Linked DNA regions of Homo sapiens. The protein of the gene in region 1 interacts with the protein of each later gene in a biochemical or structural test. Each region holds a gene or a part of one and is shown in the gene's direction. Other genes may lie near its edges. The genes, in order: PTPN2, STX17, STAT6 and OCLN.

Region 1 (7,326 bases):
GTCTCTACTAAAAATCCAAAATTTAGCCAGGTGTGGTGGCGGGTGCCTATAATTCCAGCTCCGTGGGAGGCTTAGGCAGGAGAATCTCTTGAACCTGGGAAGTGGAGGTTGCAGTGAGCTGAGATCGTGACACTGCACTCTAGCCCGGGTGACAGAGACACCATCTCAAAAAATAAAAAATGCTTTTAGTCTAGAACCACTTTAACCCCCTTGTTGTATGTGGGTCTGAAGCTCTGGGCAGCCCTAGCCCCCACTCCTGACTCTGCCCCTAACTCATACCACTCTGCTACATTCCATGTGAGTTGAATGCATGTTCATAGTTATTTTAGGTGTAGCAAAACTACATCTCATTTTAACCTTCTCATTTAAAACTCGTTAAAATTTGTACATAGGCTTTTCATCTCTTATTAGATCTTCCTTTTGCCCTATGCTATCATTAAAATGTGAAAGCAATTGGAAATACATGAAATATTTTGCTTTTATCCCCATGGCATTGTTGTAACATGGACTGTTGCCCCTTTTTAACTCTGCCCAATACTCTTCCATTGAGGCCGTACATACTGTGCATTTGTAGATTAACAGTTTCATTGTGGTTCAGGTACTTTAATGATTCCTACTTTTTCTAGAAATCTTTTTGTAGTTGACTTGAGTTGGTTGGCTGGCCAGTGATGGTACAGACTTTTTTCTCATGGATTTTCTATGATGTGTGGGAGGCACATCCTCTTGGCTGTAGAAGATGAAGAGGACAGAAATTTCCTTGGTCTACCTTCTTTGCAGCTAGAACATGATCAGTCAGATACTCCTACTCGTGATTTTGTCTCTGATTTGCCTATAGATTGTACATGAATACTATAGCCACCTTCATATGGCAGTGCCAGCAAAAGCAAGGAGATAGTAGTGACGGTATCAAGAGCAGCATCCCAGGTTGACTTTCTTTGGGGCAGGACCTTGCTTGTGTCTTAACCCTTGGTTCCTACCCAAGTTTGTCTCTCTAGTCCTCAACTCTGAAAGCCACTTGATATCTTACACAATTCCTTTTTTGCCTGAGAAAATAAAAGTCAGTTTTGATCATTTACAACCAAAAATCCTAACTAACACAGACCTGTTTTTGAAATCAGGTAGATTGGAAGTCTTGGTTTACTTCTTATAAGCCCGTCCGCTGTCTGTCTTGTAACATCCCAGGAGCAGACTTAACAAGGCCTTCCTGGAGCCTTGCTCTTTCTGTCTGCTTCCCTCATCTGCTCTCTCTCCTCTCTCTTCACAGGGTCCACTTCCTAACACATGCTGCCATTTCTGGCTTATGGTTTGGCAGCAGAAGACCAAAGCAGTTGTCATGCTGAACCGCATTGTGGAGAAAGAATCGGTGAGTAATATTTAATATTTACAACTTAGTATACTGTATGTGATCATTAGCATATAAAGATTTTCATTTTGGGGCCAATATTCATTCCTTAGTTTTGGCCTTTAATTGCTAAAGGCTAGCGGTCAAAGTGTTTCTGTCCGGAAAAACTCATGTATCCTTTTCCTTTCTTAAGTATTTTTATAACAATTGCAGACCTTTCATCTCCAAGATAGAAATACAATGGAATAAATATGGACTAGCAGTGACATATAGATCTTTGGAATCCCTAGGAATCCTTATTGACCTATTGTCAATAAGTCCTCTTCCAGCTTTAAGATCTTGTACTGTTCTACTTCAGATTTCTTACTTTATTCTACATTTCATAATTGCTGGTTTTTAATGATGATGAAAATTTCCTAATCCACTTCTAATTAGATGTGGCAATGACATGCCAGAATTTCCAGCAGTATCAGCATAGTCATTTACAGGGGTTTTTCCTGATCTTCAATATCATTTAAAAATTAAGGATTAGGCCAGGCACGGTGCCTCAAACCTGTAATCCCAGCACTTTGGGAGGCCGAGGCAGGCAGATCACTTGAGGTCAGGAGTTTGAGACCAGCCTGGCCAACATGGTGAAACCCCGTCTCTACTAAAAATACAAAATTAGCCAGGTGTAATGCTAGCTACTTGGGAGGCTGAGGCAGGAGAACCGCTTGAACCTAGGAGGTGGAGGTTGCAGTGAGCCGAGATTGTGCCACTGCACCTCAACCTGGATGATAGAATGAGACTCCATCTCAAAACCCACTGCACTGCAGCCTGGGCGGTAGAGTGAGACTCCATCTCAAAAAAGAAAAAAAAAAAAATCAAGGATTATGACATTGTCAGTTTGAGCACCATTGTAGACTACATGATTTGCAAATTTTATTTCTCTCATTTTGGAGTATAATTACTGTATTAATAAGATAACACTGCCACCAGAATTTAGAAATCATGTTTATGGTGGTTGAACCTAGATGGTTAACAAGAGTCAGGTTTAATTATTTTGGGGAAGATTACTTCAGAGGTGGTGGGTAATGTGTTATTCATCAAGAGACCCATAATGTCTGATTATTGTTCTTTTTATTTCATTAATAGCCATTATTGGTCAGTGTTCAGCTTCTTAATTCATTATGGGTTACAAATGATGATAATCCAATTCTGTCATTACTTCTCTTAAAAGCAGTTTTCCAAAAAAAAGTTGATTCCCTATTGAGGTCATCTGTTCTCAACAGATGACCAATTAGGAGTTTTTCTGGTGGAGAGTGGCAGGAGAGGTTGAATTATTATGGGTTTGGACATACTGGATTAATTTTACTCCTTTGCAGTTATTTTCCTTATTTTTGATCAAATTACCCTGTCATTGGCTAGCAGCAATGTCTTTAGGTTGGGTCCTGAGTCCTCTTTTTTTTTTTTTTTTTTTGGAGACAGAGTCTCGCCTGTTGCCCAGGCTGGAGTGCAGTGGCATGATTTCAGCTCACTGCAGCCTCCACTTCCCGGGTTCAAGAGATTCTCCCGTCTCAGCCTCCCGAGCAACTGGGATTACAAGCACCCACCACCATGCCCAGCTAGTTTTTGTAGAGATGGTTTTACCATGTTGGCCAGGCTGGTCTCAAGTTCCTGACCTCAAGTGATACGCCCACCTCGGCCTCCCAAAGTGCTGGGATTACAGGCGTGAGCCACCTCACCCAGCTCTGAGTCCTTTTTAACAAACCTTTAATAGTTTCCTTGGCTGGGTGCAGTGGCTCACACCTGTAATCTCAGCACTTTGGGGAGCTGAGTTGGGTGGATCGCTTGAGCCCAGGAGTTTGAGACCAGCCTGGGCAACATGGTGAAACTCTGTCTCTACAAAAAATACAAAAATTAGCTGGGTGTGGTGGCGCATGCCTGTAGTCCCAGCTACCTGGGGTACTGAGGCAGGAGGATCACTTGAGGCCAGGAAGTCAAGGCTACAGTTAGCTATGGTCGTGCCACTGCACTCCAGCCTGGGGACAGAGCGAGACCCTGTCTCAAAAAAAAAAAATTTTTTTTGCTGTCTGTAATGACTGCATCTCAGGCTCATCTCAAACTCTTGCTGCCCAGACCTGGAACCAGCCATTTCTCTAAGGAGTTTTGGTTTCTTTTAATGGGCAGCAGTATTTCAAGATCACAGCAAAAATAAGGATATATATTGCAACTGGACTGGTCATTGTTTTTAGGGCTTTTCAGTGGACAAAAGCTAAGGAACAATATGCATATGTTAAGATAACATACTTCAAGAGTTCATAATGATATTCCCAGTTCAAATTTGGAACTATAAGTGTTGCTTAGCCCCTTCCATCTTACATCTGCTATTTCCTTTTTCATACCAAGAATCCTGGTTCTCAAAGATATGAGAGATGTAAACTATCTTGTAATGACTCATTTCCTTCTTCCCATATCATATACAATATATAACCATAATCATGATATCATCTGCTACCAAAATAATTACTGAAAATGGTTTACAATTTTTAATATTTTTTTCATTCTCTTCCTGGTGTTTCTGAGTTGTACTTTACAAACTGTAGTCTCTCCCTTACATCTCTTGTAGACTCTTAGTTCTACAAGCAAGCATTATTTAATATTCATCAACAGTCTTTGCTGATGTCTCTCCAGTCATTCTGACTAAAGCTCATTCTCTAGTGGCTCCTAAGGAGGGACTTGTGAGCATTATAGTCTGATTTTTTTACATGTCAGTGATGGTTCATCTGCTGTCTTAATATCTGAAAGTCAGTTTGGCGGGATATAAAATCCTTGGCTCATGTGCTATTCTTTGAACAACTTTTTTTTTCCATTTCCTTCTGGTATTCCACCAAAGTCTAATGGACATCTTATTTCCTTTATAAGTCTCTTGTTCTTTTTATCTGCACTACCCAAAGAATTCTTTTTTTCTTTTTCTTCAGATATTATTAGTTTTACCAAAAATATGTCTTAGTAATTGGCCATTCTGGGTCAGTTTTTACAGGTACATGATGTGTTCTTGAGAGTTTGACTTCAAGTACTTTTTAAAATTTTTTAAATACTTTTTGTTAAAGAAATATTTGTTGAATTACAGTCCTTAGTATTTGTTCTGCTCCCTTGCTTGCTTTAATGTTCTTCTTTGGGTCTTCCTATTATACGTATGTTGGATTTTCTTTGCCTACCTTTTTTATTTGTCACGTTCTCTTTAATCCTGTTTATCTCTTTATTTCTATTTTACTTAAAAAAAATTTTTTTTTTTCTGGCCAGGTTGGAGGGCTTACACCTATAATCCCAGCACTTTGGGAGGCTGAGGCAGGAGGGTCACTTGAGCCCAGGAATTCAAAACCAGCCTCGACAACAAAGTGAGACCCTGCCTCTACAAAAAATACAAAAAGTAGCCAGGTGTGGTGGCACGCACCTGGAGTCCCAGCTGGGGTTGGGGGATTGCTTGAGCCCAGAAGATTGAGGCTGAAGTGAGCCAAGTTCACCCCAGTGCACTCCAGCCTGGGCTACTACAGAGCAAGACACTGTCTCTTAAAAAAAAAAAAAATTATTTATTTTCCTCTTAAGGCATTATTATTATTATTATTTTTTTTTTTTTTTGAGACGGAGTCTCGCTCTGTCGCCCAGGCTGGAGTGCAGTGCTGCTATCTCGACTCACTGCAAGCTCCGCCTCCCAGGTTCACGCCATTCTTCTGCCTCAGCCTCCCAAATAGCTGAGGCTACAGGCGTCCACCACCACACCCGGCTAATTTGTTGTATTTTTAGTAGAGACGGGGTTTCACTGTGTTAGCCAGGATGGTCTCGATCTCCTGACCTCATGATCCGCCTGCCTCAGCCTCCCAAAGTGCTGGGATTACAGGCGTGAGCCACCGCGCTTGGCCAGCAACATTTATTTTGAAGATAAAATTATTGCAAGAGTTTGATAATTTTAGAAACATAAAGTGAATGTCCCATGACGTTAAAATATAGGTAATCATGCTTTAAGAATGATAAATTTATTTTTATTTTATGAATATGATACCTATGGCTTTTTTAGTTTATAAGTTACAGGAACACTTAAAAAATACCTTATAAGACCGGACATGGTGGCTCACGCCTGTAATCCCAGCACTTTGGGAGGCTGAGGTTGGTGGTTCACTTGAGGTCAGGAGTTCAAGACCAGCCTGGCCAACATGGCAAAACCCTGTCTCTACTAAAAATACAAAAATTAGCTGGGTGTGGTGGCAGACGCCTGTAATCCCAGCTGCTCAGAAGGCTGAGGCAGGAGAATTGCTTGAACCCAGGAGGCAGAGGTTGCAGTGAGCCAACATCACGCCACTGCATTCCAGCCTGGGCGACAGAGCAAGACTCCAGCTCAAAAGAAAAGAAAAGCCTATGGAGACAGAAAATGGATCAGTGCTTGCCTGTGGCTTGGAGTGGGAATAGGACACAAGGGGATTTCTGAGTCTGAGAGAAATGTTCTAAAACTGGCTTACAGTGATGACTGCACACACATAAAAAATGCTTTATAAAATTTCAATCTCTACCCGCCCTGCTCCCCGAGATGGAGTCTTGCTCTGTCACCCAGACTGGAGTGCAGTGGAATGATCTTGGCTCACTGCAACCTCCACCTCCTGGGTTCAAGCGATTCTCCTGCCTCACTCTCACAAGTAGCTGGGATTACAGGCGCCCGCCATCGCGCCTAGCTAGTTTTTGTATTTTTAGTAGAGACAGGGTTTCACCATATTAGCCAGGTTGGTCTCGAACTCCTGATCTCAGGTGATCCTCCCGCCTCAGCCTCCCAAATTGTTGGGATTACAGGCGTGAGTCACCGCGCCCGGCTATAAAATTTCAATCTTACTAAAATACATTAAGCGTAGAATATAGTAGTGACTTCTTAGTTTTGGGTACTTGAAAAAATATAGCATGTATATATCTGGTTTGTTTTCATTTTTTAACTTTATGGTTTCATGATGTCTATAAACTAAAAAAAAATCATATACATATTTCTAAATTTAGGTTAAATGTGCACAGTACTGGCCAACAGATGACCAAGAGATGCTGTTTAAAGAAACAGGATTCAGTGTGAAGCTCTTGTCAGAAGATGTGAAGTCGTATTATACAGTACATCTACTACAATTAGAAAATATCAATGTAAGACCTTTCTTGCCCGAAATTGTGGACTTTATATGATGGTTTAAAGAATTATTCTTTATTATTAGATTTGAAGTTTGATAAGCACATGCATTTGGATAATTCCTATAGTATCTAGCCATAATCACGTGTTTTTAGATTGTGTGTCTGCATCTAGTAGCTTTCTGAGGACTCTGAAGAAACAGTAGAAACTAAGAATTTCAAAGTTCAGTTTGATATTTGGGGATTAAAAATTAATTAATAGAAATACATGAGGATTAATAGAGAGGGCTTTAGAATCAGGCAAACCTGGATTCAGATCCAGCTCTGCTGCTTAGTAGAGCTGTACTTTAGACTTGTTCCCCACCCTCACTGATCCCTTCCTCATCTGTAAAATGGAGGTTACCACGCCTTCCCTCCGGGGCTGTCCTGAAGGTCAAATGAGGATGTGTATGCAGAGCACCTGACCTTAGTAAATGCCCAGCAAGCAATAGCTCCCAGGACCTGTGACTGCCAAGAATAGCAAAATAGTCAAGAAAATAACTTACAAAGCTATTGTTAAGTGATTCACAACACAAAAATTTGTCCCTATTGAGTTGGAAAAAAAATGGTGTTTTATATATATATGTAACACGCACACATACATACATACATACACACACATGTATAAATGTGGCATGTGGTCTCAAGAACATTTACTTGGGTGTTTGTTTGGTTGGTTGGTTGGTTGGTTGATTGGTTTTTTGAGACAGTCTTGCTTTGCCACCCAGGCTGGAGTACAGTGGCATAATCACAGCTCTCAATGAGGCCTCCAACTCCTGGCCTCAAGAAATCCTCCCACTTCAGCCTCC
Region 2 (8,132 bases), on another chromosome or scaffold:
CACTAGGTAGTGCCCCAGTAGCATCTCTGTGTGGGGGCTCTGACCCCACATTTCCTTTCTGTACGGCCTTAGCAGAGGTTCTCCATGAGGACCCCACCCCTGCAGCAAACTTTTGCCTGGGCATCCAGGCATTTCCATACATCCTCTGAAATCTAGGTGGAGGTTCCCAAACCCCAATTCTTTACTTCTGTGCACTTGCAGGCTCAAAACCACGTGGAAGCTGCCAAGGCTTGGGGCTTGCACCCTCTGAAACCACAGCCCAAGCTCCACATTGGCCCCTTTCAGCCACAGCTGGAGCAGCTGAGACACAGGGCACCAAGTTCCTAGGCTGTACACGCACGAGGACCCTTGGTCCAGCCCATGAAACCATATTTTCCTCCAAGGCCTCCAGGCCTGTGATGGGAAGAGCTGCTGTGAAGACCTCTCACATGCCCTGGAAACATTTTCCCCATTGTCTTGGCGATTAACATTTGGCTCCTCATTACTTATGCAAATTTCTGCAGACAGCTTGACTTTCTCCTCTGAAAATGGGATTTTCTTTTCTGTCACATTGTCAGGCTACAAATTTTCCAAACTATTATGCTCTGCTTCCCTGATAAAACTGAATACCTTTAACAGCACCCAAGACACCTCTTGAATACTTTGCTGTTTAGAAATTTCTTCCACCAGATACCCTAAATCATCTCTCTCAAGTTCAAAGCTCCACAAATCTCCAGGGCAGGGGCAAAATGCTGGCAGTCTCTGCTAAAATATAACGAGAGTCACTTTTGCTCCAGTTCCCAACAAGTTCCTCATCTCTATCTGAGACCACCTCAGCCTGGACCTTATTGTTAATATCACGATCAGCATTTTTGTCAAAGTCATTCAACAAGTCTCTAGGAGGCTCCAAACTTTCCCACACTTTCCTGTCTTCTTCCGAGCCCTCCAAACTGTTCCAACCTCTGCCTGATAACCAGTTCCAAAGTTGCTTCCACATTTTTGGGTACCTTTTCAGCAACGCCCCACTCTACTGGTACCAATTTACTGTATTAGTCCATTTTCATGCTGCTGATAAAGACATACCCAAGACTGGGAAGAAATACAGAAGAACTGTATTTGGACTTACAGTTCCACATGGCTGGGGAGGCCTCAGAGTCATGGCGGGAGGTGAAAGGCACTTCTTACATGGCAGCAGCAAGAGAAAATGAGGAAGATGCAAAAGTGTGGAAACCCCTGATAAAACCATCAGATCTCTTGAGACTTATTTACTACCATGAGAACAGTATGGGGGAAATCGCCCCCATGATTCAAATTATCTCCCATGATTCAAATTATATCCCACCAGGTCCTTCCCACAACATGTAGGAATTATGGAAGTACAATTCAAGATGAGATTTGGGTGGGGACACAGAGCCAAACCATATCAGTGGGAGAAGCTTCCTAGGTGAGATGACTTTTGAGTCCAGCAGAATAAAGAGTAATTTCTTTACTCTGGGGTGGGGGGAAAGAGATGGGGGAAAGCAGGCAAAAAATGGCATTCTAAGAAGAAAGAGTAATAGTTGCAAAATCAATTTGGATTTTTTAAAATGTTTTATTATAGAAATCATAAAGGGGGCCTGGTGTGGTGGCACACACCTGTAATCCTAGCACTTTGGGAGGCTGAGGTAGGAGGATCACTTGAGCTCAGGAATTGGAGACTAGACTGGGCAACACAGGGAGTCCCAATTTCTAGAAAAATAAAATTAGCCCAGCATAGTGGCATACACCTGTGGTTCCAGCTTCTTGGGAAGCTGAGGCAGGAGGAGGTCAAGGCTGCAGTGAACCATGATCACCCCCATTGCACTCTAGTCTGGGTGACAAAGCAAGATTCTATCTCAAAACAAAACACGAAGGAAGGAAGGAAGGGAGGGAAGGAAATAAGAAAGGAAAGGAAAAGGAAGGAAGGAAATAAGAAAGGAAAGGAAAAAAGGGAAGGAAGGAAGGAAATAAGAAAGGAAAGGAAAAGAAAGGGAAGGAAGGGAAGGAAGGAAGGAAAAAAGAAAGAAAAGAAAGAAAAACAAGAAAGAAAGAAAAAGAAAGAGAAAAATCATAATGGGATTTTGATAAATTTTTAAGTTAGTTTGGTGGAAATGGACAACTTTACAATATTGACTGTATTACTTTTCCACATAGTCAAGTCTTTACTTGTATCTTATATGGAAATATGGAAGTCAGGTTAAAGTATAAATACTGTTACGTAAGATTTGAGTCTTACTCCTGTTATGTAGTATATGAGACTTGGACCTTGGTCAAGTTACTCTCTAAGCCTCAATTTCCTAGTTTGTATGAAGGGGGTGATTGTAATACCTACTTCATGGGTTGTCATCAGTATTAAATAACATATTGCATGTAAAGCGCCTAACCAAGTGCTTTACACATCACATGCAATCAAATAAAAAGCTACTTCTTCCCCCCTCCCTTTTTACATGGCTTTATTTAGGTATAATTCACATACAATAAGCACTTATACATAAACATATTTACAGTGTACAATTTGGTAAGTTTTGACATATATATACGTCCATGCAGCTATTACCACAATCAAGATAATGAACATTTCTATCACTCCCAAAGTTTCCTTATGCCCCTTTGTGATCCTTCCTTCCACCCCTATCCCTCATCTAGCTATTATTCTCAATTCTTCAAATAGGTCTTGTAATTCCTTATAAACACAAACTTGATTTTTGTCATTTTTGAATGTAATCTTCCTCCCAGTACATTTCAATTTTTTTTTTTTTTTTTTTTTTTGAGACAGGGTGTCAGTCTTTTCTGCAGGCTGGAGTGCAGGCTGGTGGGATCATAGTTCATTCCAGCCTCAAACTCCTGGGCTCAACTGATCCTCCTGTTTCAGCCTCCTGAGTAGCTGGGATTATAGGTACATGCCACCATACCCAGCTACGTTTTTTTTGTTTTTTTTAGAAATGGGGTCTCACTATTTTGCCCAGGTTGGTCTTGAATTTCTAGCCTCAAGCAATCCTCCCTCATTGGCCTCCCAAAGTGCTGAGATTATAGGCATGAGCCATCACGCCCAGTCTTCTTCTCATTACATTTTAAAATTGATGATTGTTGTTTAGGAGAGGTATTTTATAGCCATCTTATTGAATTAGTTTCAGTTTATTCCATGGATTTTCCAAGAAAGCAATCAATCATAACACCCTAAGAATTTTTTTTAATTTTCTTTCCAACATATACACTTAATGTTTTGTTTGGACTTGCTGGGTTCAGTTAGGACTTCAGGAAAATGTCGGCCAGTAGTAGCAGGCCTGCCCCTAACAACTTGATGACCTAGAGTACACAAAAGAGGTCCACACACCATATGTTTGAATATTTAAAGATTATAAATCAAGCTAACCAACAGTTAGATTAAAAGGTTTTGGTCGGGCATGGTGGCTCACACCTGTAATCCCAGTACTTTGGGAGGCCGAGGCGGGCGGATCACGAGGTCAGGAGATCAAGACCATCCTGGCTAACATGGTGAAACTCTGTCTCTATTAAAAATACAAAAAATTAGCCGGGCATGTTGGCACACGCCTGTAGTCCCAGCTACTCAGGAGGCTGACACAGGATAATCGCTTGAATCTGGGAGGTGGAGGTTGCAGTGAGCTGAGATCATGCCACTGCACTCCAGCCTGGGCGAAAGAGCAAGACTCTGTCTAAAAAAAAAAAAAAAAAAAAAATGTTTATCCTACTACTTTGACACACCTAACTTACAGCAAACATACATATAACAACTTAGAAGTCCAGGTCCAAATTTAGAATCTTTGAGTACCACACCTCCTGATTTTGTACCTGAGGAAGCTTTTTCAGAACTTAACACAAATGATCTTTTATTTCAAAAGATCTTATTTCACTGATCCTTGCATAAAAAACATTTTCTCACAGTATTGCCTAATACTTTAATTTTTCTCCTTAGAATCAAAATTTGATAAATACATTCTGGAGCTCATTGTAAAACAAATATCAGTATACATTATGTCCCCAAAGAAAATCCAAATTGCTTGGTAGATTTGGTGCTTTGTTTTAGAAATTGTCTTTCAAGGCTTTTTAAAGGATCTACAGGCCCCTAATCTTCCCTGTTTACCTCCTACTCTACTGGAAGACCCTAAGAACTCAGTTTCCTTAACTGTGGTTTGAACATCCTGATCACTTCTGAGACAATGCCATTAGTGAATACATTCTAAGCACGTCATCTGAATATTCACAGACATCTTTTTAAAAGGGCTGGATCTGGAAGTTAGGCCATGAAGAGAGGAGGACCTGTGACTTGGACAAGGCTTCAAAGCCGGCCACCTGCTTGTTCATGTGGTTGCAGCTGGTCTAACTGGAATAACTTGGGAAGGAAATTAGGACACCCAGTTGGAGTTCCAGCTCTGCCATAAGCTGGCTGAACTGGAGTGAGTCACTTAAAACTCTTTGTTAAACCCCAGAGTCATAATCTATAAAATCGGGATAAAGACGTTTGCCTTAAGCCCTCCACCAGTTTTTGGAGGAAACCACAATTTGCTGAGCTTTAATTTTTACACCTGTTGCAATTAAGATGGCACTCCTGCCCTGTCCACTTCACAGGGCTTTTGGGGACGGGATGGGGAGGCACCACCTTTCTGAGCTTCAGTTTCAAAACAGAGCTAAGAATACATGCCCAACCCGCAAATAAAATTCTAGGAAGAACAGAGGAAAACGGACAGGAAAACTGCGAAATGCAGTCGGCCATACAAGCATGAATTGTCTTAAACACAACAAGCAGACCTAAAGAGCGTTTGTGCGTCTCTCTCCTCTTGGCTCGAGTCACAACCCCATAACGTAAATCAATATCACTTTTGAAAAAGGCTTTCGCTGTTCTCAGCAGCGTCCGCATTTGTACTCACCTGTGCGCCCCCAGCGCCCGGCCTGGGGGCCCTGCGGGGCGGGGGCGGGGGCGGGGGCGGGGCCCAACCCTGCCCACCCCTCGTGATGCCCCGCCCCGTCGCTCCTGCGCCTGCGCCGTGCCCACCGACCGGCCTCGAGCGCCCCGGCGGGAGGTAAGGGGCTCTCTGGAGGCCGCCTTTGGGGGCGTCGGGCCCTCACAGGCTTGGTGGGCCTGGCGCCCGTGTGGCGCGCGCAAGAGGCGCTGGGCGGCAAGTAGGGCATTGGATCCGAAGTGCGAGCGCCATGGTGGCTCCTCCTGTTTTTCAGAAGTGGCGGAGCCTCGCTTGGTTTCGTTTTTGGAAGCTTTATTGGAAGCTGGTATAGGGAGGCCGCAGACGATGCGAGCAGGACGGCCTCCCGGGGTCGCGGGGTGGAAAAGTTTCCGGCGCGCGTCCTGTCTCTGGCGCGCTGTAGGCCCCGGGTCGCCAGGGTCGCTGGCGTCTGGGTCCCGGGACAGACCCGCGCATCCGTTCGCTGGTGGGGGCGTTTGGTGTGTGTGGCCCAGGTGTGCTGTGGGTGACACTGCGAGGAATGACGCGACGCTCGATGGTAGTGAGGCTCGGAGGACTGGGAGCGAGAGGCCGGAAGCCCCTGCTCGCCAAACCCAGAGGTGGTTGGCAGAAGGTCCCACACCTTGGCTCCCTCCTTTTAGCTAACCGAGGTTCAGAGAGGAGACTTTACTTTGACTTTTCTCTCCAAATTCGGTATCTCTTCCATAAGTCAGAAACATTAAGCGGCGGGCCGGAAGAAATCGGGCGCCACTAGTATCCTGAAAAGTGGGAGCTCTGGGCCGATGGAAGGTGTTCGTCACTTTTGGGGGCTGGGTTTCCTGAGAAATGGGGTCTTTCACTTATTAATAACCTCCTAAGTAACTTACTGGGAAACATGAGTATTATGGTACCCATCTCATATTAGTTGTAAGCACTACATGATAAAGTTTGTAAAGCACCTGGCACAGTCCTGGCACCCCTCTCTCCAAGTATTAATGCAGTGAATACGATGGCAGTTCTTTGACTTCTAAATGTTTTTACCTGTCTTACGTGAAACATCCTCTTATACTAAAAAACTTTTTTATTTTGAAATAATTTTAAAATTACAGAAAAGTTTCAAAAGTAATACAGAGTTCCCTATTGCCTCCATTAATAATTTTTTACATACCATAGCGCAATTATCAAAAGCAAGAAGTTAATATTAGTATAATACTATTAACTGAATTACTAACTTGTGATTTTTTTTCCTGTATTAATGTCCTTTTTCTATTCTAGGATCCACTCTAAGACCCGACATTGCAGTTAGTTGTCTTGGGTCCTTGGTCTCCTCCAGTCTGTGACAGTTCCTCTGTCTTTTCCTGTCTTTACACTGATAGTCTTTTTCTGTCTTTATACTCTTTCTGATCTTTACACTTTTGAAGAATGCTGGTCAGTTATTTTGTAGAGTGCCCCTCAAATGGGGTTTGTCCAGTGTTCTCTCATGATTAGATTAAGGTTATACATTTTTGTTAAGAACACAAAAGTGTGTGTGCCCTTCTCAGTTCATCATATGAGCATAGCTGATATATATGACTTATTGCTCGTGAGGTTAATCTTGATCACTTGGTAGAGAGTGTCTGCTGGGATTCTCCAATGTAAAGGTCTTATTTTTCTCCTTATAATTGACATCTTGGGGGGGAGCTTTTAAACCGTACGCATATCCTGTTTCTCCTCAGACTTTCCCTTGCTAAATTTCACATCCATTGGTGGATCTTGCCTTCAGCAATTATTATGACTATGGTGTTCTAATGATGATTTTCTACTTTCCTCATTTCTTTATTAATTGAAATTATTCTGTAAGGATGAGCTGCCCATTTCCCATTTGTTTATTTGTATTCCGTTATTTATTTGTATCCATGTGGACTTAGATGTTTTTCTATTGGTTGTTATCCTACACTTGTGTTATTTTATGTTTGAAATTGTTCCAGCTTTGATCATTGGGAGTTTTCTTTCAGGTTGCTTTCTGTAGCTTTTCAGCATGCTTCCATCCTTTTTTTTCTTTTTTGGAACTTCCTAATTTTCTGGTACCATAGGATGCCCCAGGCTCATCTTGTGTTTTCTGTGCCTCAGCCCTGATAGTCAGCCACTTCTCCAACGACCCGTAGTTTCTTTTTTTGGAGAATAGTATTTAAACACAAAGATCTGTGCTCTAGGGATGCTCATTGCTACTGGGGTAACATTGCTTCCAGGGCCCCACAGAAGACACCAGTCTATACATATGCATACCCATGCATACACAAAGATCTATGTTTATTTCTGTATTTGTCTATCCATATACTTTTTAAAAACAAAAGTTCATCCCAGTAGCTTTGCTTCTAGTCTAACACCACAGGGTTCATTCTAGTTTTGTCCCTTATTTTTAACTTTTTATCTGACAGTGAGAAATCTGACTCTTGGCATTCTACAAAATATTTTCTTATTTCTTCAGTCCTAGTATACACATAAAGTAATTTCAGGATTTCTGACCTATGTTCCTGTGAGAAACACATTTACTAAATAGAGTACAGTGTAGTTCTTTTTGTCTCTAGGCTTATAGTATTCAGTTAAAATATTGTTTTCTAAAGTGGCTTAGATAATTTTTCTTCCTCACTTCTTTCAGTGTGGTTATGCTATTCGTTTATAATACAGTTTATGTTTTTATAGTTTATATTCCATTTTGGAGGGAAAGAGTCTAAAGGTAGACTAATTGAAGCTCCATTATCATGGCTATGCATATTGTGCTATTTGACTAGAGTGATAGGATTAGCAATTGTATAGAAGGGACGTGTGAAGAAATATTTTAGTTCAGGCAGCATCTATTGAACAACAGGTGTGTTCAAAAAACATTTTGATAGGAATGATGGTAGATATAAAGATAATCTCTTTGTGGTATAGAAGAAAAGAAAAGAGGCAGTGTGATAGATTGGGAAATGTTAATGTTAGACAAATAATTGATACATTTAACATGTAATAGCCTTTTATGAGTTAATAAGAGAAAGACATCCCCTGTAGTAAAAACAGATGCATATGACATGAACAGGCAATTCATGAAAGAAGAAATGCAATGAGTACAAAAAAATAGTGATAGAGGATGAATAAAATATAGTACTTGATAGCCGAACAGGGTGACTATAATAATTCAATTGTATATTTAAAAATAACTAAAAGAGTATAACTGGATTGTTTGCAACACAAAGAATA
Region 3 (7,326 bases), on another chromosome or scaffold:
ACAAAGGGAAGGCTCTTTGCCCACAGAACCAGAGCCAGGTCTAGAGCTGCAACTAAATCCTCTGCCACTCTAAGAGAGCTCTCGCTCTACTGCCCTGTCTCCCTTTGCCTCCCCATCCCTCTGGCTACAGCTCAGCTCTTCCCACCCCTGTGTCTATCACTGAAGGAGTTACCCCCATCTCAGGCATTGACTCAGGATGCCCCTGGTTTAAGGTGGTCTGGCCATGAGTGGTGGTGGGGACGGTCCCTAGGAGGGCTATCTATGGGAGGTCCCTGGCTGCCCCAGGAGATAGGCCAAGTTTCTTGGGCACCCCTCAGAGTGGCCTTATTTTTCTCCTCCAGGCAACCTCCAAGTCCCAGATCATGTCTCTGTGGGGTCTGGTCTCCAAGATGCCCCCAGAAAAAGTGCAGCGGCTCTATGTCGACTTTCCCCAACACCTGCGGCATCTTCTGGGTGACTGGCTGGAGAGCCAGCCCTGGTGAGTCCTGGCTGCTCCCTGCTGGTCCCCCAAGTCTTCCCTAACTCATCTTCCTTCTCCTTAGATTTTTCTCCCCTCACCCATGGATTCAGAACTTGAGACCTGTTATTCCATGTGTAGTGACCTAGATTTAGCAGGGAGTCTGTGCCCCATCAAGACCAGGCTATGAATGTTGACAGATGGAGACCCCATCTCTTAGGAGGCTGAGCCGAAGAGGAGGGGGGTTTGGGCTGGGACAAAGGCACTTCTCATAACAGCTAGAAGACTGGGAAACAAGGCGCATGGGTGAAAGCTACAGAGGGCCTAGATGGAGAATAAGGAGCGAGAAAGGAACTGCTGAGCTTTTGGCTGTGGGGTAAAGGGTCAGGAGAGCTGAGGAAGCCCTGGCCTGAGGTAGCCTCATCCTGATCTTCCTGCAGGGAGTTCCTGGTCGGCTCCGACGCCTTCTGCTGCAACTTGGCTAGTGCCCTACTTTCAGACACTGTCCAGCACCTTCAGGCCTCGGTGGGAGAGCAGGGGGAGGGGAGCACCATCTTGCAACACATCAGCACCCTTGAGGTGGGGCAGGAGGGGAGGGGACAAGGCTGGGTGGGGCTGAGGTTGAACTGGGTTGAGCATTGGGCCCTGGAAGAAAATTGGTTGGATGCTGGAAGCAAATTGGTGTTCCTGTGGTTAACTGCTAGCTAGCAGGCAAATTAGATTTTAAAAGCATGCAAATGCACAAAAACTTCTGGAGTCTACAGTTGTGCTTCCTTATAGTATATGTGTGAATGCAGGCCTGGGGATTGGAGGGATTGAAGGACATGGGTAAGAGCAAAGCTCACTGTTTACCACCCTCATTTCTGTAGAGCATATATCAGAGGGACCCCCTGAAGCTGGTGGCCACTTTCAGACAAATACTTCAAGGAGAGAAAAAAGCTGTTATGGAACAGGTATTGTGATATTCCACCTCCCACCCCAACTCAATCCCCTGAGACTTTGGCCTGAGCCATGACAAACTAGAAAGAATTTGAACCTCAGTAAAGGCTCAGTGTTCTAGGCCCAGGAATGACCAAAGGAGGTTCCTAGGGTCAGAGTGAACCCCAAGTCAAGCTCAGGGAATCTTTCTATGAGGGACTGAAGGTAAGAGGCCGGGGAGAACAGAGCAAGGGATAAGGAGCTGATTCTGCTAGGAGCAAGGTCTTATCTCCACGATATTCCAAAAGGTCAGGAAGAACTGCCAAAGGGGAGAGGGGAACAAGAAAACGCTATCTGCAGAGCAGAGAGTGGAGGCCAGGTATAGAGGGATGAGCAGAGTGTTTCACTTCTTGGCATCTGTCCTTCCTGTGTAGTTCCGCCACTTGCCAATGCCTTTCCACTGGAAGCAGGAAGAACTCAAGTTTAAGACAGGCTTGCGGAGGCTGCAGCACCGAGTAGGGGAGATCCACCTTCTCCGAGAAGCCCTGCAGAAGGGGGCTGAGGCTGGCCAAGGTGGGGGCCAGGGTGGTTCTGGGGAGTGTGTAGGAGTGGTTGCCTCTTGGATCTCAACCTTATCTGAACCTCTAATCTGTCTGCACCCTTGATTTCTGCCCCCAACCCTCAGTGTCTCTGCACAGCTTGATAGAAACTCCTGCTAATGGGACTGGGCCAAGTGAGGTGAGTAATGGGCTGACAGGTGGAGACCTTGGTCAAAGTGCAGCTGGAGGGATGGAAGCTAGACCTCAGAAAGACACAGGCTGAAGTAGGGCAAGGGAATGCCAGAGGAGTGAGAAAAAGAGCCGTATCCCAGGAGCTGGGTGTGGAGGCAGCGTGAGGCCCTGGCTCAGGCCCCTCTCTGCCCATAGGCCCTGGCCATGCTACTGCAGGAGACCACTGGAGAGCTAGAGGCAGCCAAAGCCCTAGTGCTGAAGAGGATCCAGATTTGGAAACGGCAGCAGCAGCTGGCAGGGAATGGCGCACCGTTTGAGGAGAGCCTGGCCCCACTCCAGGAGAGGTTGGGCTAGGGCTGATGGGGAAGAGGGGGCAAGCTGGGGGTGGGCAGCTGACCCTGCTGAAGGCCCTACAGGTGAGAGAAAGAAGCCAGGCGGGAGGGCCTTGGAGTGGACCAAGATGCATAAAAGCCAGTTCCAGCGGGGCTGTGCACACTGTCGTTCAGGTCGCATCCTGTACAAGTGGGCCTAGTGGAGGGGCACAAGCGGGGACTCATCCAACCCAGGCTTCTCTCCTCAAGCCCCATGCCTAGAGGAATAGGAGGGCTTTTCCATTTGGTTTATTGGGTGGGAACACTTTCCAATTTGCCACAAAGCACTGTAAGTGGTGGCAGTTGTCCTGGGTGCAAGAGCCGTCGGGGGAGAGGCAGCTGGGTTTCCACAGGGGGTGTAGGCACTGAGAATGAACCTCCCACCCAGACCCTAGGCCAACAGATCACAGAACCCCCTTCAGCCCAGGTGCCTTGCAGCCACACCCACTACCCACCCCACTTCTCCACACATGATAGCCTTTCTCCCTGGGTATAGGGGAAGGGGGTCTGGGCCGGAGCAAGCAGCCTTAATCCTGTGCCCCCTGACCACTGTCCTGGCCCCAGGTGTGAAAGCCTGGTGGACATTTATTCCCAGCTACAGCAGGAGGTAGGGGCGGCTGGTGGGGAGCTTGAGCCCAAGACCCGGGCATCGCTGACTGGCCGGCTGGATGAAGTCCTGAGAACCCTCGTCACCAGGTATTCCCCGGGAGCTCCCAGTCTGGCCTAGAACAGACCTCGGGAAGAAAAGAAGGGGGCTAGAGCTGTGGGGAGGGCACCAGCAGGGACCTAGCCCCCAACTCCCCTTGTGTCCTCCTCACTCCCAGTTGCTTCCTGGTGGAGAAGCAGCCCCCCCAGGTACTGAAGACTCAGACCAAGTTCCAGGCTGGAGTTCGATTCCTGTTGGGCTTGAGGTTCCTGGGGGCCCCAGCCAAGCCTCCGCTGGTCAGGGCCGACATGGTGACAGAGAAGCAGGCGCGGGAGCTGAGTGTGCCTCAGGGTCCTGGGGCTGGAGCGTAAGCTGGGATTGGACCTGGGGTTGGAGAAGGGCTGTTAGGGTGATGGAGGCAGCCTGGAGGGCTGGCACTGAAAAGAGCAAGGGATGGGGAGGGAGGGCCATGGGATGTGGAGACCCTGAATGGTCAAGGCAGAGGAAAGGGAGGGACCCATTTAGGGCTGGAATGGGGTGGGGGCATCATGATTTGGCCAAGATGGGGACTCCTCCCTTAAGAACCCAAACAGAGACATGGAGATTTAGGGCTGGTGACAGTGGGTAGTCTACACTCACCCATGCACTCGCCACACCTGACGACAGTGAGATGAGCTCGTTCACACTCTGACCTCCCCTGGCAGAGAAAGCACTGGAGAAATCATCAACAACACTGTGCCCTTGGAGAACAGCATTCCTGGGAACTGCTGCTCTGCCCTGTTCAAGAACCTGGTGAGGGGCTTTGGGGTGCAGTGAGGGGGGCACCACTAGGAGACTGTGGGACTCTCCTTGGAGAGGATGTCAGGAAGCCCAGGAGGAGCGGTCTCTGTCCTCATGACCTCGCCCTTGCTCTCCCTCACCCCACCCACAGCTTCTCAAGAAGATCAAGCGGTGTGAGCGGAAGGGCACTGAGTCTGTCACAGAGGAGAAGTGCGCTGTGCTCTTCTCTGCCAGCTTCACACTTGGCCCCGGCAAACTCCCCATCCAGCTCCAGGTGAACCGTGGCCCAGCCCTGCCCCAATCTGGGACCCCGAGTCCTCCTCCAATGCCACACACAAGGGCCCTGGACCCTCACCTCTTGTGACTGCCCCATACCCCATGTGTCTGGGATTCATGCACACTGGGGCCCGGGTGAGTGGGGGTGAGCAAGAGCATGGAGTGCACAGGGCAGGGAATGGTAGTGGATAGCAGCAAACACTTCGGAAGCACTTCCTATAGACCAGGGCACTCTATTAAATGATACATACGCACATGCGTGCCAGCACACACACGTCTGGTTTTCACAATAACATTATGAGGTAGGCAGTATTATCAGCCTCATTTTATAGATAAGGACATTGAGACAGAGAGTTTAAGTAGTTTGTCCCAGTCACACAGCTAAGTGTTGGAGCTGGTATTTGAAACCTGGAGGTCTGGTTCCATAGCGATGACTAATAACCACTTCTCTACGGTGAGGCCCTGATTGAGCTTCAGAACGCATTTAATAACATGGCATGAGCTTTTTGATTATGATGTGTGAGTCCAATAACTTCTCTGAGTGCTCAGAGCCAGTCCCCTGAGGAAACTTCTTGCTTCACTAAGAAACCCCTGTCCGGCTGGGCATGGTGGCTCAAGCCTGTAATCCCAGCACTTTGGGAGGCCGAGGTGGGTAGATCACAAGGTCAGGAGTTCAAGACCAGCCTGGCCAATATGGTGAAACCCCGTCTCCACTAAAAATACAAAAATTAGCTGGGCGTGGTGGTGCAGGCCTGTAGTCCCAGCTGCTCGGGAGGCTAAGCAGGAGAATCGCTTGAACCCAGGAGGCGGAGGTTGCAGTGAGCCAAGATTGCGCCACTGCCCTTCAGCCTGGGCGACAGAGCAAGACTATGTCTCAAAAACAAAACAAAACAACTCAGCACTTTGGGAGGCCAAGGTAGGAGGATCGCTTGAGCCTGCAAGTTTAAGACCAGCCTGGGCTACATAGGGAGATCCAATCTCTACAAAAAATAAAAAATTGGCCGGGCATGGTGGCTCACGCCTGTAATCCCAGCACTTTGGGAGGCCAAGGCGGGCGGATCATGAGGTCAGGAAATCGAGACCATCCTGGCTAACACGGTGAAACCTCGTATCTACTAAAAATACAAAAAATTAGCCAGGCATGGTGGCGGGCGCCTGAGTCCCAGCTACTCGGGAGGCTGAAGCAGGAGAATGGCGTGAACCTGGGAGGGAGAGCTTGCAGTGAGCCAAGATCGCGCCACTGCACTCCAGCCTGAGTGACAGAGCGAGACTCTGTCTCAAAAATAAATAAATAAATAATTAGCTGGATTAGGTGGTACATTTCTGTAGTTCCAGCTATTCAGGAGGCTGAGGTGGAAGGATCACTTGAGCCCTGAAGGCTGAGGCTGCAGTGAGCTGAGATTGCACTACTGCACTCCAGCCTGGGCAACAGAGTGAGATACTATCTAAAAAAAAAAAAAAAAAAAAAAAAAAAAAAAAAAAAAAAAAAAAAAAAAGGAAAGAAAGAAAGAAAAGAAACCCCTGTCCTCACCCTCTTCAGGCCCTGTCTCTGCCCCTGGTGGTCATCGTCCATGGCAACCAAGACAACAATGCCAAAGCCACTATCCTGTGGGACAATGCCTTCTCTGAGATGGTGAGGAAAGTCCTGGAGTTGGAGGGAACAGGGGCAGGGTGGGTTCTAACATGGGCAGTGGTGCAGGCCTGCTGATGGGGTGGTGGGCATGTTTAAATGGGTGTGACCTTAACACTTTCTCATGGGCCTGCTTTCGTGCTTCTGACCTCTTTTCACCCCAGTCTTAACAACTATCAGGCCACAGCACTGTAACCTAGAAAAAACAGCATGTTTGTGAGCGATATCAGGGGCTGTGGAGGGGTAGGCCACAGGCAGGTGGGAGGGATGAAGGCCGGCCCGAGGAATAACAAGACGGTAGCCTGCAGTGCTCTCTTCTTCCCCCTTCTCCCCAGGACCGCGTGCCCTTTGTGGTGGCTGAGCGGGTGCCCTGGGAGAAGATGTGTGAAACTCTGAACCTGAAGTTCATGGCTGAGGTGGGGACCAACCGGGGGCTGCTCCCAGAGCACTTCCTCTTCCTGGCCCAGAAGATCTTCAATGACAACAGCCTCAGTATGGAGGCCTTCCAGCACCGTTCTGTGTCCTGGTCGCAGTTCAACAAGGTCATTCTCCTGCCCTTTGGACCTCCCACCCCCAAGCTCTTCATCCCTGGGGCACTCAGGGCCTGCTCAGCCTCCATGCAGGGACCTTCCACTGGATTCTCCACAGTGCCCCCTCAGGTCCTTTAGGAAGGCCTGTCATGGACCAGGGAGGAAAAACCCCAGGCCTGGGGGTTGGCTCTGGAGATGCGTTCTCTGACATCCCTGAGGTTTTGGTCTGGGGGCCATCTGTCCTTCCTCTTTACCAGTGACTTGCATGACTCACCCAGGTTGTGTGTAAACAGAGCTCTGATTCAAAGTGACTTTGACCTGTTGGAAAAATAGTTCCTGGCCGGGCACAGCGGCTCATGCCTGTAATCCCAGTCTTTGACATGCCGGGGTGGGTGGATCACCTGAGGTCAGGAGTTTGAGACCAGCCTGGCCAACATGGTGAAACTCCATCTCTACTAAAAATACAAAAATTAGCCAGTTGCGGTGGCACATGCCTGTAATCCCAGCTACATGGGAGGCTGACGCAGGAGAATTGCTTGAACCCAGGAGGTGGAGGTTGCAGTGAGCTGAGATCATACCACTGCACTCAAGCCTGGGTGACAGAGCAAGACTCTGTCTCAAAAAAAAAAAAAAAAAAAGGCCAGGCATGGTGGTTCATGCCTGTAATCCCAGCACTTTGGGAGGCCGAGACGGATAGATCACCTGAGGTCAGGAGTTCGAGACCAGCCTGGCCAACATGGCAAAACCCCGTCTCTACTAAAAACAAAAAAATAGCCAGGAGTGGTCGTTTGCGTCTGTAATCCCAGCTACTCGGCTGAGGCAGGAGGTGAACCCAGGAGGTAGAGGCTGCAGGGAAGATGAAACCATTGCACTCCAGCCTGGGCAAGACTCTGTATCAAAAAAAAAAAAAAAAAAGGCTAGGTGTGGTGGCTCACACCTGTAATCCCAGCACTTTGGGAGGCTGAGGCGGGCGGATCACAAGGTCAA
Region 4 (7,326 bases), on another chromosome or scaffold:
AACAAATTATCTGGACGTCTACTATGTGCCAGGCATTGATTTAATCAGTGAACAAAACATGCAAAAATTCCTGCTCACATGGAATTTACCTTCCAGTAGATCTCAAAGTTCCCTACTCTACTAATCACTGGTATAACCTGGAAAGAATTTATTGTTGGTTCAACATAGCTAAGGAGTGGCATGAAGTTCTGTAGCTGATGTGGGAAGTACCTTGCCAGTGTCTCCAGCACTGGGTTTTCTAGAATAATCCTCAAGCTTTATAGGTTAGGGGGTTGTGTGTTTACCACATCTTGCTGAGACTTGTCTTTTTCCTGGAGAGCTCTCAGTGCCCATGGATCCACCTACGGACGTAGGCAGATGACCTCCATCTTCACTTCCTCATGGATGCTAACACCAGATGTGCACTCCCCACAAAAACTGGTGTTTCCCAAATGGAACTCATTGTTTCAAACTAGCATAGTGAAAAGCACATGAAATCATCTGGGTTCAAGTTACATCTGAGTGACTCACTGACATCCATATAACCTTGAGCATATTACTTCACATCTCTTTCTGACCCTCTTTGCATCTGTAAAGTGACTAATCAACCATGGAGGGTCGTTTTGAGGATGAAAGGAGGTTTTATGTAAAGCACCCAGCACGTCGGTAGGTGTCTGATGAATGTTAGTTTCCTTCCTATCTTCTGTCTCCTAAGCTAGTCCTTCATTGTTGCCTCACACCTAGGTTTGCTGCTGCTGACTGTAGGTGCTCCTTTTTACTGTTGACTTTGTCTTTCAAATCTGGTTCAAATCAAACTTACACCTCCCTTGCCGAGAATCACGAACTGGCTCCCTGTTTCCTACCTGAAGGAAGTGAGACACTCCCACTAGACTTTCAAAGCCCTCCCTTTTCTTACTCATCCTCCATCCACTATATTCTTACTGTAACCTTATTTTAAAAGATGACACCATTCCACCATGCTCCCACTTCACTGTTCCATAAGCTAGCCACCTGTGTTATCAGCACCACACCAGCCTGGAAGAGCCAGGACCCCAGCGCTGGCTGTCATACGTCACTCCCACAGGCTCTCCTGGTCTAGTGTAGGCACTTAATAAATGCTTGTTGAGTGAAATTTCTCCTCAGATGTTTAGGAACTTGTGCTGAAGAATTTTAGGACAAAATTTCAGAAAATGACCAATTAATACCATGCATATTGTTTTTTCTCCCCTTGTATAAAAATTGTGCTCAGTTTCGAAGACTTGGAAAAGGAGATAAGGGAAAAATATCTACAATTCCACCATTTATAGATGCATTTTATTATCATTTTTAATGATAAAGGCATTTAACCCATTAGATGGTTACTTTGCATTGAGGAGCTAGTATGTGCTAGTGCGGCTATATGTGCACTTTCTTATACATTCTCATTTAATATGAACTTTCAAAAGTAATATGAAATTATATATATTTCAAATTTTTGTACAAAAAATACAGGAATTAGCCAGGCATGGTGGTGCAGGTCTGTAGTCCTAGCTACTTGGGAGGCTGAGGTAGGAGGAGTACTTGAGCCTGGTAGATCAAGGCTGCAGTGAGCTGTGATTGGACCACTGCACTCCAGCCTGGGTGACAGGGTGAGACCCTGTCTCGGGGTGGGGGTGGGATGAAGAAAAGAAAGAAACTGTGAGCTTAGTAGTAATGCCATAACTCTACTTTTGTTGCTTAGATTGGTTTATCTTGGAAGCTAAAGGGCATTGCTCATCCTGAAGATCAGCTGACCATTGACAATCAGCCATGTCATCCAGGCCTCTTGAAAGTCCACCTCCTTACAGGCCTGATGAATTGTAAGTAAATAATTCTTTAGTTATTCTCTTTTAAAAAGTCTATCACATGTAAACAATAAGTATGGTTGAAACTTTAAGTGTTTGCTTTTAAAAATAAAACGATATGTGTACTTGTAAATTTAAATTGTATCAAAGGGTCTGCACTGAAAACTGAATTTCTCTCAACTTTCAGAATGACAGTTTGTCTCTGCTAGGACAACTGCTGTCACCTATTCCTAATGTTTGTTTCAAGAGATTGCCAAGGTTTATATTTGTATGTTCCTTTTTGTTTTGTACAAATGATAATGAAGCTTCCATTTAAATGCCTCATTTAGGTGGCCATTGGGAACATATTGTCAGTTTTTAAAAATAACAGCTTTAGGCCGGGTGCGGTGGCTCACGCCTGTAATCCCAGCACCTTGGGAGGCCGAGGCTGGCGGATCACAAGGTCAAGAGATCGAGACCATCCTGGCCAACATGGTGAACTCCCGTCTCTACTAAAAATACAAAAATTAGCTGGCTGTGGTGGCGCGCACCTCTAATCCCAGCTACTTGCCTGTAATCCCAGCTACTTGGGAGGCTGAGGCAGGAGATTCACTTGAACCCAGGAGGTGGAGGTTGCAGTGAGCCGAGATCACGCCACTGCACTCCAGCCTAGAGACAGAGCGAGACTCCGTCTGAAAAAAAGAAAAAAGGCCAGGCCTGGTGGCTCATGCCTGTAATCCCAGCACTTTGGGAGGCCGAGGCGGGTGGATCACCTGAGGTCGGGAGTTTAAGACCATCCTGACCAACGTGGAGAAACCCCCATCTCTACTGAAAATACAAAATTAGCCGGGCATGGTGATGCATGCCTATAATTGCAGCTATTTGGGAGGCTGAGACAGGAGAATCGCTTGAACCCAGGAGGCGGAGGTTGAGGTGAGCTGAGATGGCGCCATTGCACTCTAGACTGGGTGACAAGAGCAAAACTCCGTCTCAAAAAATAAATAAATAAATAAAAATAACAGCTTTATTGAGATATAATTAACATACTTTACAATTTACCCATTTAGAATGGATAGTTTAATGGTTTTTAGTATATTCACAGAGTTGTAGAACCATCACCACAATTAATTTTAGAACATTTCATTACTCTCCAAAGAAACCTATCCATTGGCAGTCACCTCCCAGTTCCATCAGCCCTAAGCAACTATTGGTCTACTTTCTGTCTCTATAGATTTGTCTATTCTGCATATTTTGTATAAATGGAGAAATCACGTAATATGTGGCCTTTTGTAACTGGCTTCTTTCACTTAGCATAATACTTTCCATACTGTCAGTTTTAAGAGTGATTCCTGCCATGATCTAAAACAAGCAGTGTTGAGGGGTTTTGGGCTCCTTGGTCATGTGAAGACTTATCAGTGAATTTTTGAATTCCAAATTTGCTATCAAACATTGATAGGGATTTCCTCCTCTAAGTAGTTTGCAGCTTTAACCATGATAAGTGTAGTGGAGTGTGATATAGGCAAAAACAAACAGTTTCTCCTGCTGTTCTGTCACAACACATCTGTGACCTCTGATCACCAGAATTTGTGGGGATATTTCCCCACCAGCAACCAAGTAATCAGTTCTACAGTGGACAATAGCTGTGTGTCCTCTAATTATCAGTTCAATTCTGACACTGTCAGAGATAGCATCAGATCACAGGTTCAGGGCTCATTCCCACAAGACTGCCCCCACTTCACGTAGCAGCCACAAGCTCAGGTTGTGGCCTGTGTTTCTGACCCACCTACAGTAAATCAGGATTCCCACAGTTGTCTCCTTGGGTGCAATTAATTTGCTAAAGTGGCTTGCAGAACTCAGGGAAACAGTACTTACCATTACTGGTTTATTATAAAGGGTATTACAAAAGCCAGGTGTGGTGGTGCATGCCTGTTATCCCAGCTACTCAGAAGGCTGAGGCAGGAGGATTGCTTGAGCCCAGGAGTTTGAGGCCAGCCTGGGCAACATAGGGAAACCCTGTCTTTTAAGAATGAATGAATGAATGAACAAACAAATGATATTACAATGGATGCCAACAAACACCAGATGAAGAGGTGGACAGGGCGAGGTATGTGGGAAGCAGCCCTCCCTGGTTGTGCCACCCTCCAGGAACTTGCACATGTTCAGCTGTCCAGAAGTTCTGTGAATTCGGTCCTTTTGGGTTTTTATGGAAGCTTTATGACATAGGCATGATTGACTAAATCATTGGCCATTGGTGAGCAGTTTAAGCTTCAGCCCCTCTTTCCTGTCCAGAGAGGGTTGGGGCTGAAAAGTTCCAACCCTCTAATCCTAGCTCCCATCCTGAAGCTTCCTAGGGCTGCCAGGAACCTATCATCTCATTAGCATATAAGGGATACTTATCACTTTGGAGAGTCCAAAGATTTTAGGAGTTGTATGCCAGAAAATGGAGATGAAGACTAAATACATATTTTACAATATCACGTGAAGGTTGTGTTCCAGTTCTTTAACCTCCTTACTAGTGCCTAAAACATGGTGGGGACACAAGTTGTTTATGACAATACAGTTTTTAAAACATACTAGAGAATATAGTAATTGAGTAATGCACCACTAATCTGACACTTATTTTGTGTTGCTTTTGTAAATAATGGTGAACTGCAACATACATAAAGAAAAGGACACAGAACATATGTAGGAGATCATGAGGAAAGACCAAGCAAACATACATACTCATCACCCAGGTCAAGAAACAGAACACTTCAAAGTCCTTCCCTGTGTCCTCTCCTTTTCTCTGGAGACCACTGTCCTGACGTATGATCATTACCTGCTTTTATCATTTTATCATCTTGTATATCCTAAACATTTCAGTTTAGTTTTACCTGTTTTATTTATTTATTTTTGAGACAGACTCTCACTTTGTTGCCCAGGCTGGAGTGCAGTGGCACAATCTTGGCTCACTGCAACCTCCACTTCCTGGATTCAAGCAATTCTCCTGCCTCAGCCTCCCAAGTAGATGGGATTACAGGTAACCACCACAATGCACAACCAATTTTTATGCTTTTAGTAGAGACGGGGTTTCGCCATGTTGGCCAGGCTGGTCTCAAATTCCTGACCTCAGGTGACCCGCCCACCTCCTAAAGTGCTGGGATTATAGGTGTGAGCCACCACATCTGGCCAGTTTTACCTGTTTTAAAACTTTATGTAAATATAATAATGCGATATGTATTTTTTCATTTTTTTCAGCATTACCTGTAACTGCATGTATTCATAGTTCATCAGTTTTGGCTTCATAGCACTGTAGAAATATAACATGAGCCATATATGTAATTTTATACTTTCATTAAAAATAAAAAGATAATTTTTTTTTTTTAAGACAGAGTTTTGCTCTTTTTGCCCAGGCTGGAGTGCAATGGCACGGTCTCGGCTTACTGCAACCTCCACCTCCTGGGTTCAAGTGATTCTCCTGCCTCAGCCTCCCAAGTAGCTGGGATTACAAGCACACACCACCACGCCCAACTAGTTTTTGTATTTTCAGTAGAGATGGGGTTTCACCAGGATAGCCAGGCCGGTCTCGAACTCCTGACCTCAGGTGATCCACCCGCCTCGGCCTCCCAGAGTGCTGGGATTACAGGCGTGAGCCACCGTGCCTGGCCAAAAGAAGAAATTAATTTTAATATATTTCACTTAATCTTGTATATCTAAAACATTACTTCATCACGTGATTGATGTAAAAAATGAATGATTCAGGAAATATTTTACATTCTTTCTTCATATTATATCTTTGAAATCCATTGTGCATTTTTAAATTTTTTTGCCCTGTCACCCAGGCTGGAGTGCAGTGGGTGTGATCGCAGCTCACTGCAACCTCTGCCTCCTGGGTTCAAGGGATTCTTGATTTTCGTGCCTCAGCCTCCCAAGTAAGTGGGATTACAGGCATGTGTCACCATGCCTGGCTAATTTTTGTATTTTTAGTAGAGATAGGGTTTTACCATGTTCTCCAGGCTGGTCTCAAACTCCTGGCCTCAAGTGATCTGCCCACCTCAGACTCTCCACTGTGCATTTTAACAGCGTATCTCAGTTTGGACTAGCCACATTTCTTTTTTTTTGAGACGGAGTCTTGCTCTGTCACTCAGGGTAGAGTGCAATGGCACGATCTCGGCTCACTGCAACCTCCACCTCCCGGGTTCAAGCAATTCTCGTGCCTCAGCCTCCTGAGTAGCTGGGATTACAGGCGCATGCCACCACGTCTGGCTAATTTTTGTATTTTTAGTAGAGATGGGGTTTCACCATGTTGGCCAGGCTGGTCTTGAACCCCTGACCTCAAGTGATCCACCCGCCTTGGCCTCCCAAAGTGCTGGGATTACAGACATGAGCCACCGTGCCCAGCCGGACTAGATACATTTCAAGTGTATGATAGACCCAAGTGGCTAGTGGCTGCCACATTGGACAGTATAGCTATGGAGTATTCCATTGTATGGATATATTACAGTTACCCATTCCACTGTAGGTAATTGGTACAATCACTTTGGAAAACAGTTTGATACTGTCTAGTGAAGTTGAAGATATAAAAATATGTGATCCAGAAATTCTCCTGGTTATATACCCTAGAAAAATAAGTACTGTTCCGTACCAGAATACACATTCAAGGATGTTTATAGTTAAACTGTTTACAATACCCCCAAACAGAGATAACCCAAATGTCTGAGCAGAATGGGTTGTGGCTAGAGGCCAATAATCTTATGTTTTAACAAGCCCTCCAGGTGATTCCTGTGCACAGATAAGCTTTAGTTTCATTTACCCAATGGTTTAAATTATTCCAAATAAGTTGTGTTCTTTCTGCTTACTACCAAAAAATGCTAACTTGAAATTATTTTCATGTTCATTTCAGCAAACCGAATCATTATGCACCAAGCAATGACATATATGGTGGAGAGATGCATGTTCGACCAATGCTCTCTCAGCCAGCCTACTCTTTTTACCCAGAAGATGAAATTCTTCACTTCTACAAATGGACCTCTCCTCCAGGAGTGATTCGGATCCTGTCTATGCTCATTATTGTGATGTGCATTGCCATCTTTGCCTGTGTGGCCTCCACGCTTGCCTGGGACAGAGGCTATGGAACTTCCCTTTTAGGAGGTAGTGTAGGCTACCCTTATGGAGGAAGTGGCTTTGGTAGCTACGGAAGTGGCTATGGCTATGGCTATGGTTATGGCTATGGCTACGGAGGCTATACAGACCCAAGAGCAGCAAAGGGCTTCATGTTGGCCATGGCTGCCTTTTGTTTCATTGCCGCGTTGGTGATCTTTGTTACCAGTGTTATAAGATCTGAAATGTCCAGAACAAGAAGATACTACTTAAGTGTGATAATAGTGAGTGCTATCCTGGGCATCATGGTGTTTATTGCCACAATTGTCTATATAATGGGAGTGAACCCAACTGCTCAGTCTTCTGGATCTCTATATGGTTCACAAATATATGCCCTCTGCAACCAATTTTATACACCTGCAGCTACTGGACTCTACGTGGATCAGTATTTGTATCACTACTGTGT

Evidence for each region.
Region 2: of the proteins of PTPN2 (region 1) and STX17, one has a biochemical effect on the other in vitro, tested with the Homo sapiens proteins (one study listed by BioGRID).
Region 3: of the proteins of PTPN2 (region 1) and STAT6, one has a biochemical effect on the other in vitro, tested with the Homo sapiens proteins (one study listed by BioGRID).
Region 4: of the proteins of PTPN2 (region 1) and OCLN, one has a biochemical effect on the other in vitro, tested with the Homo sapiens proteins (one study listed by BioGRID).

The regions. Positions count from the first base shown.
Region 1 is NC_000018.10:12,824,980-12,832,305, reverse strand, and holds part of PTPN2 (tyrosine-protein phosphatase non-receptor type 2), read left to right. Parts: intron 1-1,264; coding exon 1,265-1,363; intron 1,364-6,361; coding exon 6,362-6,496; intron 6,497-7,326. UniProt on the Homo sapiens protein: Non-receptor type tyrosine-specific phosphatase that dephosphorylates receptor protein tyrosine kinases including INSR, EGFR, CSF1R, PDGFR.
Region 2 is NC_000009.12:99,901,671-99,909,802, forward strand, and holds the start of STX17 (syntaxin-17), read left to right. Parts: upstream 1-4,983; 5' UTR 4,984-5,036; exon of another isoform or gene 5,037-5,533; intron 5,534-8,132. UniProt on the Homo sapiens protein: SNAREs, soluble N-ethylmaleimide-sensitive factor-attachment protein receptors, are essential proteins for fusion of cellular membranes.
Region 3 is NC_000012.12:57,101,315-57,108,640, reverse strand, and holds part of STAT6 (signal transducer and activator of transcription 6), read left to right. Parts: intron 1-341; 5' UTR 342-362; coding exon 363-478; intron 479-897; coding exon 898-1,036; intron 1,037-1,326; coding exon 1,327-1,410; intron 1,411-1,809; coding exon 1,810-1,948; intron 1,949-2,060; coding exon 2,061-2,113; intron 2,114-2,301; coding exon 2,302-2,450; intron 2,451-3,041; coding exon 3,042-3,173; intron 3,174-3,301; coding exon 3,302-3,490; intron 3,491-3,827; coding exon 3,828-3,915; intron 3,916-4,049; exon of another isoform or gene 4,050-4,054; coding exon 4,055-4,177; exon of another isoform or gene 4,178-4,281; coding exon of another isoform or gene 4,282-4,314; intron 4,315-5,719; coding exon 5,720-5,812; intron 5,813-6,144; coding exon 6,145-6,351; intron 6,352-7,326. UniProt on the Homo sapiens protein: Carries out a dual function: signal transduction and activation of transcription. Involved in IL4/interleukin-4- and IL3/interleukin-3-mediated signaling.
Region 4 is NC_000005.10:69,502,478-69,509,803, forward strand, and holds part of OCLN (occludin), read left to right. Parts: intron 1-1,699; 5' UTR 1,700-1,767; coding exon 1,768-1,817; intron 1,818-6,663; coding exon 6,664-7,326. UniProt on the Homo sapiens protein: May play a role in the formation and regulation of the tight junction (TJ) paracellular permeability barrier.